2 linked regions of the Homo sapiens genome follow. The protein of the gene in region 1 interacts with the protein of each later gene in a biochemical or structural test. Each region holds a gene or a part of one and is shown on either strand. Other genes may lie near its edges.

Region 1 (7,000 bases):
GGCCTATGCCTTTCTCAGTTTTTGTGAGCACATTAAGGGTGATTATTTTTGGCAAAAAAGTAGAGTATAGCCAGCTAAATATAATTGCGATTTTGCAGGGGCCAGGAAGCATGAAGGATGGTTGAAAGACTGCTATACACAATTAAATGTAAACAGTTTTTCAAGCAGAAAATTTGAAGACTAAACACATTTACCTTCCAATATGCTTACCAAGTTTCCTACTGTAAGCACATTATTGAAATGGTCCGTCATTGGATAGTGCTCCATGGCCATGAAAAGAGTATTTAAGACAATACAGATGGTGATGGCCAGGTCAACAAATGGGTCCATCACAACCAGGTTGACAACATGTTTCACTTTTAACCAATATGGAGAACAGTCCCAGATTAAGAATATGTTGGAAAATTTATACCAACAGGGTGGGCATTTCTGCCTGGATTCTTCAAGTTCTAGATTAAGAAAAAAAAAAAAAAGAACCACCAAAAGGTATACTTTATACACACACATTTATTTCATATCCACTAAACTTATTTTCAGTAATCAACACATTTTTGTTACAGAGACAACCTTTTTTGTACTTGTTAAAAAAATTACAGTTTACTCTAAACCTCCCAAGGATATTTCATCAGACACACACATAGAGCCCAGGTAACAATGGGTAGTTTTTTGTCTTATGCACTGACATTGTGGCTCAGCACTTGGCCTCAAGTTAAATGAGTGGTCTTTCATGTGACGTCTCAATGGGAACATGGTTTAGGGTGGTGTAGATATTGTGTGTGCAACCCTATGTGAATGACTCTACATTGTCAACCTCAGACTATGAGAGCTAGAATAGGGATTGATGTGACCCAAGAATCATCTTTTTAGCTTGTTTTTATTTTGTGAAAATGACCTGCTCTTCCTCTACAATCTTGAGAGTACTTAGGATGAGGCTGAAAAGGGCTGTACTGCTGAAGTCTTAAACTAATGGAACAAAAAGAGGGTCACTATGACTAATGAGATTAGAAACCCCTAACAGAAATGCTTTGTTCTGCATTTTCAAAGAGTTGCTACACAGTTAGGAAAACATTCTTAGTCCCAATATCACTCATTTTAAAATAAATTGTTAAGGCTTCTAGAATATCTGAGTAGATATAAGAAATAACAGCTCTTGAATTAGACTGTCTTTTCATTAGAATGCACTATTCCCAACTCACAAATATATTTGTTTGAAATGAGACAATATAAGTTTGGTGAAAATAATTGAAACGAAAATAGAATTTGTTACCAACCTTCTACTGTATTTGTTAGAATGCTGGCTATACTCATTGCTCGTTGCCTTTGGGAAGGATCTTCTAGAAAGTCCATGGAAACGTGGAAAGAACTTGACCTTCTCTTTCTCATTTCAGTTTCAGTGGTTGTTCCCTGTAAAAAAAAATGCTAATGCATTAAACAATTAATTTGAGCAATATGACAAGCAAACAACCAAATGGTGACACAGTGAATTTCATGAAACACATGCATCATGCACTTTCATATTCAATTGGTGATGGCAGATATTTCTGACTTATTGTATCATTAGCCTGGAATGTTCAAACTGTTAACCATTTAGTCATACAGCAAAAACCAAGATGTTAACTTCCTGATTTCATAATTTTATAAAATACAAAATAATTTTAATATAGTTGATAAAACTCTTAAGAGATATATTTAACAGTTATTACCCTTATTTCTGAACTAATAGTAAAAGCCTAGTAACTTAAAAGTCCTACAAGTGATCAAGGCACTTGATTTTTGAGAAGGTAGCTATTTAATTTTAAGGAAGTATAAATGATTGCAACACACTTAGCTGCCATCTTATTTTCTGGACACAAGATGTAGATGGTCATTGACAACACAAACTCTATGTTAAAAAGAACACACACATGCTGCATGGACAACAGTTTCATCCAGGGTACCAAAGCAATAAGTCATCTAATTCTGACTTAGTCATGCCTCCTCATGCTGATATATTTCCAAGTGAGTAAACAGTCTAAGAAGAGGCAGCATCTGTTTAGAAATTCCTCATCTGAGTATACATCCACAAACACATAACATACCTTTGTACACAGACAATTATTTTATCTGTCTGTATTAATAATGTATTTGTGTCTCTTCATTTAATTTTGAGAAGACCTATATCAGCATTTTTTAGTAAGAAAAATATGAGTACTAGGAGTATTAAGGTAACAATGAAGCTATCTACTTAAGCAGTGTTTTTGAAAATCTAAACTAAAGCAGAGATCTTGAAGAATCCATTGGAAAGATTTATTACATACCCTTGACACTTAAACATAGAATCATTCATTTACTTTCATACCAGAGCCTTGGAGAATGTCCTGCTATCTAAATTCAGTGTGGGTATATAGCAAATCCTCCAACTGGAGGCAGTAATTATTGTGTCTAATCAATCCTTAGCACTTTTAATAAGTAAATGCATTCAGGTTTGTGCAGGAGACTGCTAAGGTTTTAAGTTTTAGTTGGTTAGTCTATTAAAGATATTACAAGATGCAGGTGCATTCACAGCGTGACCAACCAGGAATCATTCTCAAGGTTGCCGTTCTGTAGAAACACTGGCTGGTGCAGCAATAGTGAGCCAGCCATGCCTGAACTATTTAAAACTTCCTTACATTGTCATCAGTAGCTGGCTTATCTATTATCACCTCTGGCAGAAGCTGTCCAACAGGCGATGTAGGAACTGAAGGTCCACCAACCAAGGAAACCACACCATTGCAATCCACAGTGCTGTGCATCTTCCCATTCGCTGGAAACACTGCCAGCATCCGGGATGACCTACTGGTCTGACTCAGGTTGCTGTTGCGTCTCTCTCCGTGTCGTCGGGGCACAAACAAGGAATCTCTACGGCTCTCGTTATCCTCAAAGGTGCTGTGCTCATCATCTGCGAAGTCGTTCTCAGATCCCACATCCTTTGCTCGCCCTCTAAAGCTGAAAAGGCTTGTTCTGCTATTTCGCCTTGGTGAAAATAGGGAGCCACGGATGCTCAACAAAGACTAGAAGTTTGAAAGAGCAAACAAATAAAGTCATATTAATATGGACATTTGAATGTGATTTCATTTTGCAAGATTATGTAGAAGGAGATTTCAGCATTCATAACAGAATATGGTTCATTCCTTTTGATTATCATTCTCATTTTATGTGCATTCACATTAAATTAAATTACCTTGATAAAAGAAAGTTTCTAGCCCTTGGGATTAAAGAATGAGGAGATAGATTGCAACCTTAACATATTGAAACACACACACACACACATACACACACACCCTGAACGACCATTTCTCAAGTTCAAAGGGAAACATCCTTAGAATATGGCAATGGACGTGGTAAACATTCAGTGAACACTGGCACCATGACCTTAACAAGGCCACCTTGGTTTTTATGGATCTTGTCTTTCAAAAACTTTCAACACTCCTCACAATTTACTTTAGTCCACCTTTCTAAAATCACTTTAATTATTATTTCTTTTTCACCTATAAGGCATTGTATTGTTGGAACTTGAAGTTCATACTTCTGAAATTCAGAGTCATGTGCCTTTTGATCAAGTGTACCATGACTAATATTTTCAGAAGCATGCATGGTGACTTATAAAGAAGTTAGGGGGAAAAAAAACATAAAATCATAAAATAACCTAAGGACATTCCTGATCGACTATCCGGAGTTCCACATTTTTTTTTTTCTTAAAAGTGCTGAGGATCAAAAAGATTAAATGTCATTAGTTATAGACAAATATCAGCAGACAGTATCAGAATGACAGTCCAGTTCTCCTGACTGTCAACTTGGTGTTATCTTAACTACACCGAGCTGTAGACTTACATATCTGTGGAGTAAAGTTTTTGCATAACTATGTGAAGAAGGGATGGGTTTAAATATAACACAACAGTGGTTGATTCAGTTGATAAAAATTCCTGAGTCCATTTTCTAATTCTCCCCCTCTCTCCCATGTTTTAATTTTCAACCATGCATCAGTAAACTCAGCAGTGCCATACCTGGTGTGGGGAGGAGTACCTCTTTTCATATGTCAATCGGTTCCCTTCAATGGAGAAGCGAAAACCTTTCCTCCTGATGCTGTCCTCAGATTCAGATTTTTGGAATTCATCCTCATCTTTCTCTTCCCCACCAGACTGCTCTTTCTGTTTTCTTTTCTTCCTCCGATTTCTTCTTTCCTTAGCACTCTTGGAACTCAACTTAGAGGCTTCAGATGAGCTGTCTGAGAGCCTGCCTGCTGCACTGGGCTCTCTGGAATGTTCTGAGGCAGTTGCCGTTGCTGCCTGCTATATTGAAGAGAAATGATTTTAACATAGCACCTGAAGAGACTGTATCTTTCTTTGAAAGGGCTGAAGTATTTGCATGGCTTTTAAAAAATATATTGAACTGACTGAAGATCATCTCACAGAGAAGATTCTCTGCAAGTATAAGAGGAGATTTTTTTTTTCTTTCTACCTAATGAAGGCTTTTGGAGATAATTTAGTTTGCTCCATGGTAACATTTATTATGTCTCTGTTAATGCTCCACAGACCACGTATTCAAAAATATCCAACATGTATCAACAAGAAAATAAATTCATTACTTTTTGGGATTTGATTTACTTTAAAAATTGGTATTTAATTAGTGTTGTTTTCTTTTCTCCGAAAAAGAAACTCGAGTATGGAAGAAAAGCTGATGAGTTTAAGGCAGGGGAATGGGATAAGGACCTGAGGTCCTTTCTCTAGTTATTGAAATTGGATTGTCCAATACCCTCAAAATATTATTAATCCTATTTATGGACAGTTATAAAATCCCTTTCTCACCCATCCACAATATCCAGAAGAATGGGGAAGGGAGAATCAATAGTTTCTGCTGAGCAAGATAAGACATCCAGTTCTCCAAAAACTGTCCCCACCATCTTCAAATCAGTACTGGTTCTTAAGGGGCACATGGGCATGGAATAAAACAATGCTTTTTGATTATAGCTTGTACTGGTACTAAGTTGACACTTTTTTATTATTATCATTGTTCCCAGGGTAACCTCGATAAATTAATTACTCTTGCATATAAATTAATATTTCTGAAACAACTTTCTTCTTTAGTAAAGACAATAAGTTTGTATGCTAAACAGAAAGATGAGAGAGATAGGAGAGGCATTTTATGATTTATCACACTGTGAGGACTAACACTTCACTATAAAAACAAGTAATCCTTTTTAGATGGTCAATCTGTGTAAGATTGGTAACATTCATATGTCTATTGGATGCTGCTGTATCAGAGATCATTATATTATTTGATCACTTCCTTATAAAGGTAATAAAGCAACCACGTTAAAAGCCAACATATTTTTAGTTAAAGAAAAAAGGAGACTATGTTTAAGAACTAGAGGAGCAACTCTTCATATGATAACCAATAATTTCTTGTTCTAAGAAAAGATGATTTCCTCCTAATGCCAGTCTACTCATTGAATAAAAGTCTCTCACTTGAAAATACCCCAAAATAACATTTTCCCTTTACTTTGAGAATCTTAAGATGATTAAAATAGCATGAGAGAGTTCTATTGTGGTTATTATTATACACATCTCAAATAAAATAATTAAACTAAATAAAAGTAAGTGGATCATCAAAATATAGAAATCATTATTAATTCCTCATACAACCACCTGCTCTTAGGTACTCACTTTCTCTTCAATATTACGTAACAATCAGAACGATAAAAGGTCAGTGCCATGAGACAGGGCAGCTTTACCTGAGCTGCCTCCTGTTGCTTTTTAAGCTGTTCAATCATCTGCTGAAATTCGGCCTCTTTCTGTTCTGCTTCTTCCAAGGTGGCCTGATTCTGTTCCTCGTAGGCCATGGCCACCACAGCCAGGATCAAATTTATTAGGTAGAATGAGCCCAAGAAAATGACCAATACAAAAAATATCATGTACGTTTTCCCAGCAGCACGTAATGTCTGCAAACAAAAATATCAGAATTATTTCTCAATATTATTTCACTAAGTGGTGGCTTCAACTTTCAATTTACTCATGTGTCTAGCAAAACTCAGATATAAATAGTAATTATGTTGGTCATAGCACCCTGTACTTTTTTTTTATTGTTTCTTTAACTTCAGCTTCTTCCTTCTCTTCTAGCTTATGCATTCACACTATGATTTCTATGGCAGAATTTTTGTATTCACCAAGAATGAAACAGTCAATAAAATGCCATGGAGTCCTCCATTAACGACCTGAGCCTTTAGGAAAGTCAAGGAACAGACCAAAGTTATCTTTCTATATCTGCTTTTTCATTTTCATTACTTCCCACCTGAGGGATAATATTTGAGGGGGTAGATAGGGCTGAAGGGAGAATGTGCCTTCTGTTTAGGACAATCTGTGTCTGAGAAGGGTAGGGAACAGGTTTTGAGCCAAGAAGAAATGGGAGAGAATTGCAATCCTTGGCATCACTCTGCTCAGTATGTGTTATAATCAATAGGATAGAGGAACTCAAGTCTCGTTTCAAGTTCTGCTCTTTCTACTATATTATCATCCGGTTTTAATTTCATAACTCAATTGGTTTTCTTGTATACTTTTACTTAAATGGAGAGTGTGGCTCTTTAGTTCTCACCAGTTGATAAAGATTTTCCCAGAAGTCCTGAGTCATTAGTCGAAACAAGGACAAAAAAGCCCAACTGAAGGTATCAAAGCTTGTGTAGCCATAATTGGGATTTCTACCAGCTTTCACACACATATATCCCTCTGGACATTGGCTGCAAGTGGGGTAAAAGAAAGTATTACAAGTCGTTCTGCTGCCTTTTTACTCTGATACTATGCTATGATATTGCCTAGTCAGAAAGATTTGGTATTTCAAAATAAAAGTTTGACAAATAAGTAACTAATCTATTTCCCAACTTTTGACTGCATATAGTCTTATTAGCTACTTGGTGTCATCATTAAAATATGGTGCAGCATTTCTAATAATATTTTACAAAATAATTTTTGTTGATAATTTGCATTTTCAA
Region 2 (8,861 bases), on another chromosome or scaffold:
AACACCAAATTCAGAACACTGCATCTCAAACTCAATGCCATCAGAAATCCCCTGGACAGCGTTTTAAACCTATAGAGTCCTAGGTCATACATAGGTTTCAAACATCAGATCACTTTGGAGATTTGCTCTGAGAATCTGTTAGCTTCTAGGAACACTACAGATGGTTCTGGTACTGATGTTTGGGAAATGACAGTTTACATTCTGCTGAGTCTTAAATCAGATTCTATGAGCTTAAAGCACCAATTCTAACAAAGAAAATGGAAACCATGTATATGGCCAAGTGTGTGTGAGTGTGTGTGTGTGTGTGTGTGTGTGTTAGTACTGTCTCCCCACTACCAAATAAATTGGGAGAAATAAATCAATATTCCTTTATTCCAAGTTTAATACTTCTGTATGGATGGCTCTCAAATGATTCTTAGTTATCTTATTTGGAAATATATTTATTTCTCCAGGTCTCAGCTCTTGAAGCTTAAATCTTTGCAAAGTACACAGACTTTTTTTTTCAGAAGGGAAGAACCAGATCCTAAATACTCAGCCACCTGCAGTAGCTGAGCAATGTGCTTCTTGAAGGAGGAGGGAGGAGAAAAGGAGGAGACTATATTTTGTTCTTTGTCAAAGAGTATTTGACTGCTATATCTGATGCTAAAGGGGGAGGTCACCACTAAAACACTTTACATCTGGGGAAGTTACTTATCTGTGCTTTGAACAATACTCTGAAAGGGCAGAATTGAGAATCAGGAAGCCTGTGCTATTGTCCAAAATTCCAGGGGAGGGGACCCATGTAAGTAGAGGTTTATATGCAATGTACATAGTAATGTGCTTAAACATCAAGGCCATCTATCAGAATAGGTGACCCTGAAACCCCTCATCAACGCTCCTGTTCTCTAAACACAGGATGAGACGTGAAAGAGTGAAGGGAAATGGGCTGGTGGGTAATTATTATCATGTTATCAGTGTAGGACTTAACCATCCTCAAACTGGCAGAGCTTAATTTTGGGAATCGTGACATTCAAAAGACAACACCAGCAGGACTGGGATAAAGGCAGACATATGTGAAAAACAAATAAGCAGGAAAAAACAAAAGAACAAAAGCAAAACCCAAAGCCAAAAAAAACCCTACTTTGGCTTTTCCTCCCTAAGAGGACAATTCCCTTCACAAAGGAAGGGCTCATTTACCGTGCAGTGCTGGACTCTGTTAGGATGTTAACAGTATTACCATTGGACTTACAGGGTTACAAAGATGCCTTTAAACATTACAAACAAAATAGTCAATAATTTTTTTGGTTAACCCATTAGCAGCAAGTTAGCTAATCTCTTATGCTATCATTTTCTAATCGTTTTCTAAAAGTGTCATCTAGTTATGTGCTTTATACCTGCCCTATGGAAAAATATTATCGAAAACTTTATTTATTTATTTATTCACTTATTTTTGGGACAGAATCTTTCTCTGTTGACCAGGCTGGAGTGTAGTGGTGCAATCTCAGCTCCTGGCAAACTCCGACTCCCTGGGTTGAAAGTGATTCTCCTGCCTCAGCCTCCCAAGTAGCGGGGATTACAGGTGTGTACCACCACACCTGGCTAATTTTCATATTTTTTAGTAGTGATGACGTTTCATCATGTCGGCCAGGCTGGTCTTGAACTCCTGGCCTCAAGTGATTCACCTGCCTCGACTTCCCAAATTGCTGGGAATACAGGTATGAGCCACTGCGTCTGTCCTAAAATCTATTTAAATGTAAGTTATGGCTAGGATGCCTTTCATCCTATCCCTTCATTAAAAAAAAAAATCACAAATAATGGAAATAGCTCATAAAGCTGTAATTTATTTTTTCAATAATTCAATAAAGAAAATATGTTTAGACCAGTTTTACATGTAAATTCTAGGCTAGGTTCTATGAAGGAACATGGTTTTACAGTGAAGGGCTTATAACGACTGCCACACAATGTCATTGCCAAAGAACTTTAGAAATCATCTGGTCCAATTTTTTTTTTTTTTTTTGCTGAGTGGAAATAAACCTTGTTAGAATTCACCAGAAAAGAAGTGATGCATTGTTAATTCTTTCTTGCCTAGCTTGAACATGGCATTCCATTAACTGTTTTATCTGATTGTTTACCAATGTGTTTCTCATCATATCATGTATTCCTGTCTCAATTTTGCATGATTTAAAACTAGTTTACTATTCAAATTGCATCATAGTATAAGGTTTCTGCTTTGCTATCACTGACTTTTCTGAGTATTTGCATATTCACAGGCTTACTTCAGATTGAAGGGCAACATAGTACAGAGGTTACGTGACATCAGGGTTCCTGGACTGCAACCCCAGTTCTGTATTTATCTAGCCCTGTGGTCTTGGACTGGTTACTTAGTTACTTTAAATTACGTTTCCTCATCTATAAAATGAGGATAAAAATACAGAACTATTGTGAGGCTTAACAGAGATAACATACGCAACCTGGCTAGCAAATAGTAAATTGATAAACTGCATACAGAAGTAGTAAGACTAGTAATAGCAGTAATGGTGGCAGCAAAAATAATTTGAGTATCCCAGCAGCGAGGAGAAAGGTTTCAATGTCCAGTGGATTAATGCCTGACACAACCTCAAGTGTACATATCTTTGATAGTAATGGTAACCTGTTAAAATCATTTAAGGATATAATGTATAACTGCATGGAGAATCATAAGGTAATTGTTCACATTTTCTGTATTATAAGGACATCAAAGCACATAGGAGGCAGAAGAGAACCAACCAATTTCATGTGTTTCATGTCAGTTACAAGAGTGTGATGATCTCCATTAATCTGCAAGAACTTTTATTTCTAAGGGGTAGGGATATATTGCAGATTTTTAAAAAGAGAAGCAATTAGGAGACATTTATTCAAGATCATTTACTAGGTCCCACTATATTGAAGTTACATCTACATCTTTCTCAGACCTCAGACTGTAGCCTGTCTTACCAGTTTTAAATGGGGTTTAAGAACTTGATTGTTCAAGTCAGAATGCTTTGGTTTCATTTCTGGCTTTGCCAATTGCTAGCTGCATGATTTAGGACAAATTACTCAATATCTCTGTGTTTCATTTTTCACATTTGTAAATGCGGATAATACTGGAACCTACTTCGTACAAATGGAATGGAAAGTAAGAGACAGTAATTGAGACGTGCTTAGAATAGCACCTGCACAGAGTAAGCATTTATAAAACTGTTAGCTAAGATTGTTCAATAAAGTTAGTTCCCTAAGACAAAAGATAAAGACATTTATAGGGAATGAGAAGGTGTTTGGCCTAAAACCAATTAAGTTTTTTTTTTCATTTTTGGAAGTAATTATCATCATATTCTATATGCTTCACACCTAGAGAGACAAAAATCCTTGGAAGTGAATCAAAGTATTAGTGAATCTGATTTAGAATGCATTTTTTTTCCCAGAACAAAAAGAAAATCATTCTAAAGGATCAGTCAATAACATAAAGTAAAAACACGATAATCTACCAAAAGATGTCAATCAGAAAATTAGGAAATCAGAGATATTCTAAAATTAAGAGGATGGAAGCCTGAAGCAGAGTTTTTAGTGTCTCAATACCCATTGTGCCATAACCCCTAGTCACAGAACATTTATTTGGTATATGGCTATCAAAAAAAAAAAAAAAAAAAAGACTACATTCTTAGCTTCTTTACACCTAAGTGTGACTACCTGACTAGGTTGTGGCCAGTGCGATAAGTAGCATATGGCAGTTACCATGGACAACTTGGAAAGAAAACTGGCCCTGGCTTTTCCTTCTGTCTTCTTCACCTCTCCTCTGCCCTCTGGCTGGAATAAGATGCTGGTTGGATCATGGGCAGAAGGGCAGATCCAGGGCCAGCATGTGTGGTTGTGTTCCGGGTGCAGTGCACAGTTGTAAATAAGCCGTAGCAAAACACTGGGAGAGAGGTAGTAAAAGCTGGATGCAGCCAAGGCCCTACCAATTGGAAAAGCACAGTACCAGCTAGGATAGCTGGTCTCTAGATTTGTTTTGTGAGAGAATAAAAAACTTTATATGATTAAGCTGCTGTTAATATGAGTTTGTGTTGTGTGAAGACAACCTTAATTCTAATCCATATAGGAATGTCCAGTTGTACACGTACATGCTCATCCAGACCCAAGAGGAAACTTGATTAACCAAAGTACAGATAGCAGCTAAAATTAGGAGGGTAGGTTATAGGTATATATATATATATATATATATATATATATATATATAAAATTTTTTTTTTTTTTTTTTTTTGAGAAAGAATCTTGCTTTATCACCCAGGCTGGAGTGCAGTGGCGTGATCTCAGCTCACTGCAATCTCCACCTCCTTGATTCTCCTGCCTCAGTCTCCTGAGTAGCTGGGATTACCGGCACGTGCCACCACGCCCGGTTAATTTTTGTATTTTTAGTAGAGACGGGGTTTCACCATGTTGGTCAGGCTGATCTCAAACTCCTGACCTCGTGATCCGCCCACCTCGGTCTCCCAAAGTCCTGGGATTACAGGCGTGAGCCACCAAGCCTGGCCTAGGTGTATTTTTAAGTGGGGTCATGAGGGTGAAGTTGAATATAAAGGGCATTATCCGTAAAGGGAATAAACACAACACGTGGATTTCTTTTCTTCATACTTTCCTAAATTTTCCAAAATTGTTAATGACCTTGTACTACTTTTATAACAAGAAGAAAATCAATGTAAATGAACAAATAAAAATGATGCAATAATTAAGAGCATAATTCATCAAACATTTCATTTTTGAGAATCCATATATTTCCCTGTGAAAATATTACTTACTTCTCAGGTACCCTTTGCTTAACCCTAAGAAGCAGGCACTTTCCTGCCTTTATTCACACTGCACCTGGAATGTTTTTGTCTGCCTAATCCCTACCTCTCATCTCAAATTGCAGGAACCTGGCCTAGCCCTGAAGGTAAGTTTAAATATTAGCTTCTCAATGATATCTTACTTTTTGGGAAAATAATAGCCTTTTTCTCTGAGTCCCAATATAAATCCTATATATTGCATCACTTAACATTTTACTTTTGCTCTGAGTAAACATATGTCACACCTCTAAGAATATCATAAAGTTCTCTGGCGCATATATTCTTCTTTGTCTTTATAGTTTTCTATTCATTAATTCATTCACATGTTCACTTTTCAGACAACTGATTATCAAATATCTCTCTATGATATGCCAACTATTATAGAAGACAAAGGGAGATATGAAGAAAAATAAAACATGTTCTGTTCATTCAAAGAGTGAGCTAACCATGAATAAGAGGAGACAGAGTGGCATTGGGCAAATTTAATGTCATAATTTCTATGGGAGAGAAATGTATGCAATGACAAGCTGACCGAATGTTTAGTTCTACTTGAAGAAAGTCAAGAAGGCCATCATGGAAGTATTGACTCTTGAATTATTTTTTTCCAAAGACTAATAGACATTTTCCAGGCAGATGAGATAAATGGATAAAAACTAAAGGAGCAGGGGTGATGAACAAAATGAGCCCAATAAGAATGAAAATAGGCCAGGCATGGTGGCTCACGCTTGTAATCCCAGCACTTTGGGAGGCCGAGGTGGGCAGATAACCTGAGGTCAGGAGTTTGAGACCAGCCTGGCCAACATGGCGAAATCCTGTCTCTACTAAAAATACAAAAATTAGCCGGGTGTGGTGGTGTGTGCCTGTAATCCCAGCTACCCAGGAGGCTGAAGAAGGAGAATCGCTGGAACCCAGGGGGCAGAGGCTGCAGTGAGCCGAGATTGCACCACCGCACTCCAGCCTGGGTGACAGAGCAAGACTCCATCTCAAATAAATAAATAAATAAAGTGAAAATATACTGCAGGAAAGAAAAGTTCATTTCATGTGCTGAATACACAGCATGTGAAGAGGGTCCTGAGAGGGGCTAGGGGCTTTGAATATCACATTTCATCCAGTGCTTGGAACATTGGAAGATAGTATTGACTTAAATGTTTGCAGTCACCGTGCTATGTACTATGCACCAGGCATTGTGTACACTGATTGACTGACCATGCCATATGAGATATTCAGGGGACAGCAAGCTTGACTAAGCCACAGAGTTGCAATGCACTGCCTCAATTTTCTCATTTCCTCAGACGAGGATGCTGAGCCAATGTTTAAAGTGATTATAATGTGACTTTCAGAGGAGAAACAAGCTTACTCAGCCTGTAGTAGAAAGCTTGGCTGAATTCAGGAAATGTGGTTACCCAAATGATATGCTCTCATCCTAGCTAAGGAATTTCTGAGGGAACATAGCCTAGCTGCCAAAAATCGGTTTCCTCAGAAAAAAAAAAACAAAAAAGTTTATTCTAATGGTCAGTTTGAAATAAATGAACAGAGAATTAAATGATTACGAGAGAAAAGGTTATAGGCTCACCTGAGAAGGATACAGTGCAATACGGTAAATATAAAAGTATCATTTGTTTTTCAAGGGTGTATCTTGAGAAAGGAAATTATTAGGTTTAGAAAAGGAGGAAACTGCATACTAGATAGTAACTACCACTTCTTTTCTACTTTCAAAATTTTTCCGGCTTCTATATTCAGGCATTTTTTTTAAGTGCCAAGTATTTGTAATAGAATTTTCCTTTTTTTTTTTTTTAATAGGAAAAGATTCCCAGCTACTACGGAGGCTGAGGCAGGAGAATTGCTCGAATCCGGGAGGAGGTTGCAGTGAGCCGAGACTGAGCCATTGCATTCTAGTGTGGGCGACAGAGCAAGACTCTGCCTCAAAAGAAAAAAAAAAAAAAAAAGGAAGAGATACTATTGTGTTCTCTGAATATTTCTTTTGAATCTTTCTTCTGATCTGTTGCATTCCAGGCAAACTCTCTGGACCAAAAGGGCAAGAAGCAGAATTGATGTCAACACACAGATAAGGGTCCAACAAAGACAGTCAGTTGGTTTCATACCTTCAATAGGTTTCGGTACAAAATGTGATGAGGGCTTGGTTTTCTTCACTCTGTTCCCCTTCATAATTTGACCTTCTTTATTGAGTCCCAGAAACCAAGCTCGGCCTGATTCTTGCTGGCGGTACAGTGTGGAAGAATAGATCACATAGTAGTTTTCAAACACAGATTCCTTGAATTTGCATTCTGGAGTGAAAACATCCTGTAGGAAAAAAAAAAAAAGACACAAAAAAGAGAAATGATTTAAAGGTGAATCAGCAAATGCTTAAATCCAATAAGCTTGAAATCCATGTCCTCTGTTAAGAACAAATGAAAGGCAATGACACATAGTTTCTATTAGCCTTTGGTTACAAAGATTCATCATACAAAATCAAAAAACATGATTGCCTTTCTAGCCAACCTTCAGCCCAGAGATAATAACTTGCTCAGGCTTGAAGCTACGTTAAAATCATTCAGGACTGTGGCCAAGTCTGCGCTCCGATCCTAGCAATATGTTTTGTAAACTAAAGTGATTGGCCATTCCTCATTTACTCACCCTTAACATGTAAATAAGGAACTAAAATTTATCCTGGAAATCAAAATCAAATATAACCACAGCAAACACAGGCACACAAGGTGCTTTTGAAGAGACTATTCTGTATATACAAATGTATTACACAGCCACAGCTTGGTCAGGAAAATCACCACTTTTCCTAAAGTCAGTAACTTCCTCTCTAATTTCCTTAAAACATTTTTTTCCTTAGTAATCAAAATCTCAGGTAAAAAGCCCAGGAATAATAGAAAAAAATTACTATTATATTGAAGAAAATTACTAATAGTATTAATTCCTATTACTATTGACCTCAGTGAAACACAGAATGAGAGTTCTAGTCTCAGAAGAAACTGTAAGATCCTGTACTTCAACTCCAGCATTTGGTAAGTGAGAAAACCAAAAGGTCACGTGATTAATTCAAATACACATTTAAGAAACTACTGAGTCAATGCCAGAGCTCACATTCATTGCTTCACAATCACAGTCTCTCAGGCTCACCTTTTCTGCCTGAGTCTTGTTTAGTGACTTATAATGAGATTTAAAAATCAATACAATAAAATCATATCCTAACATGTCACATGAACAAAATGTATTGTGTGGAAGGAAGAAATTTCTCCCCTTCTGAGATCAGCAGAAGAAAAACAAATGCTATTGCATCTTCTTCAGCTGCAATTAAACAGGAGTCCTACATGTCAGACATATTCACCACAGTCACCATCTTCCTCTCCATGAACTGGAAGAATTTCAGTGTGAGACTCCCATGATTTAATGCAAGCAAACCTGGAATTAAGTTATTAATGAATATAGGAATATTAATGAATATAGGTTGGTTGAAGCCATGTCCTTGTAGGTGATACTCCCATGCCAATCTCCTTATTTGTAGAGAGTGCTCTCTCTCTCTCTTTCTCTCCCTCTCTCCTTTTTTTTCTTTTTCTTTTTGTAAGAGGTGGGGTCTTGCTATGTTGCATAGGCTGGCCTCAAACTCCCGGGCCCAGAAGATCCTCCCACATCAGCCTCCCAAGTAGCTGGAACTACAGGTGTGTACCACTGCACCCAGCTTGTTTTTGAATAGTTCCAACATTATAGACGAAGAAAAATGAGACTAAGAAAACTGGAGTAGGCTGGGGTGTGGTAGCTTACCTCTGTAATGCCAGCACTTCGGGAGGTTGAGGTAAGCAGATCATTTGAGGTCAGGAGTTCAAGACCAGCCTGGCCAACATGGTGAAACCCCGTCTCTACTAAAAATGCAAAAATTAGCTGGGTGTGGTGGCAGATGCCTGTATTTCCAGCTACTCGGGAGGCTGAGGTGGGAGGATGACTTGAACCAGGGAGGTGGATGTTGCAGTGAGCAGAGATTACACCCCACACTCCAGCTTGGGTGACACAGTGAAATGGATCTCAACCCCCCCTTCA

The links.
Region 2: the proteins of SCN1A (region 1) and FGF12 interact in a biophysical measurement, tested with the Homo sapiens proteins (one study listed by IntAct).

Annotation. Positions count from the first base shown.
Region 1 is NC_000002.12:166,041,021-166,048,020, forward strand, and holds part of SCN1A (sodium channel protein type 1 subunit alpha), read right to left. Parts: intron 6,749-7,000; coding exon 6,607-6,748; intron 5,957-6,606; coding exon 5,750-5,956; intron 4,308-5,749; coding exon 4,023-4,307; intron 3,030-4,022; coding exon 2,649-3,029; intron 1,405-2,648; coding exon 1,272-1,404; intron 450-1,271; coding exon 211-449; exon of another isoform or gene 195-210; intron 1-194. UniProt on the Homo sapiens protein: Pore-forming subunit of Nav1.1, a voltage-gated sodium (Nav) channel that directly mediates the depolarizing phase of action potentials in excitable membranes.
Region 2 is NC_000003.12:192,163,539-192,172,399, forward strand, and holds part of FGF12 (fibroblast growth factor 12), read right to left. Parts: intron 7,119-8,861; coding exon 6,920-7,118; intron 1-6,919. UniProt on the Homo sapiens protein: Involved in nervous system development and function. Involved in the positive regulation of voltage-gated sodium channel activity. Promotes neuronal excitability by elevating the voltage dependence of neuronal sodium channel SCN8A fast inactivation.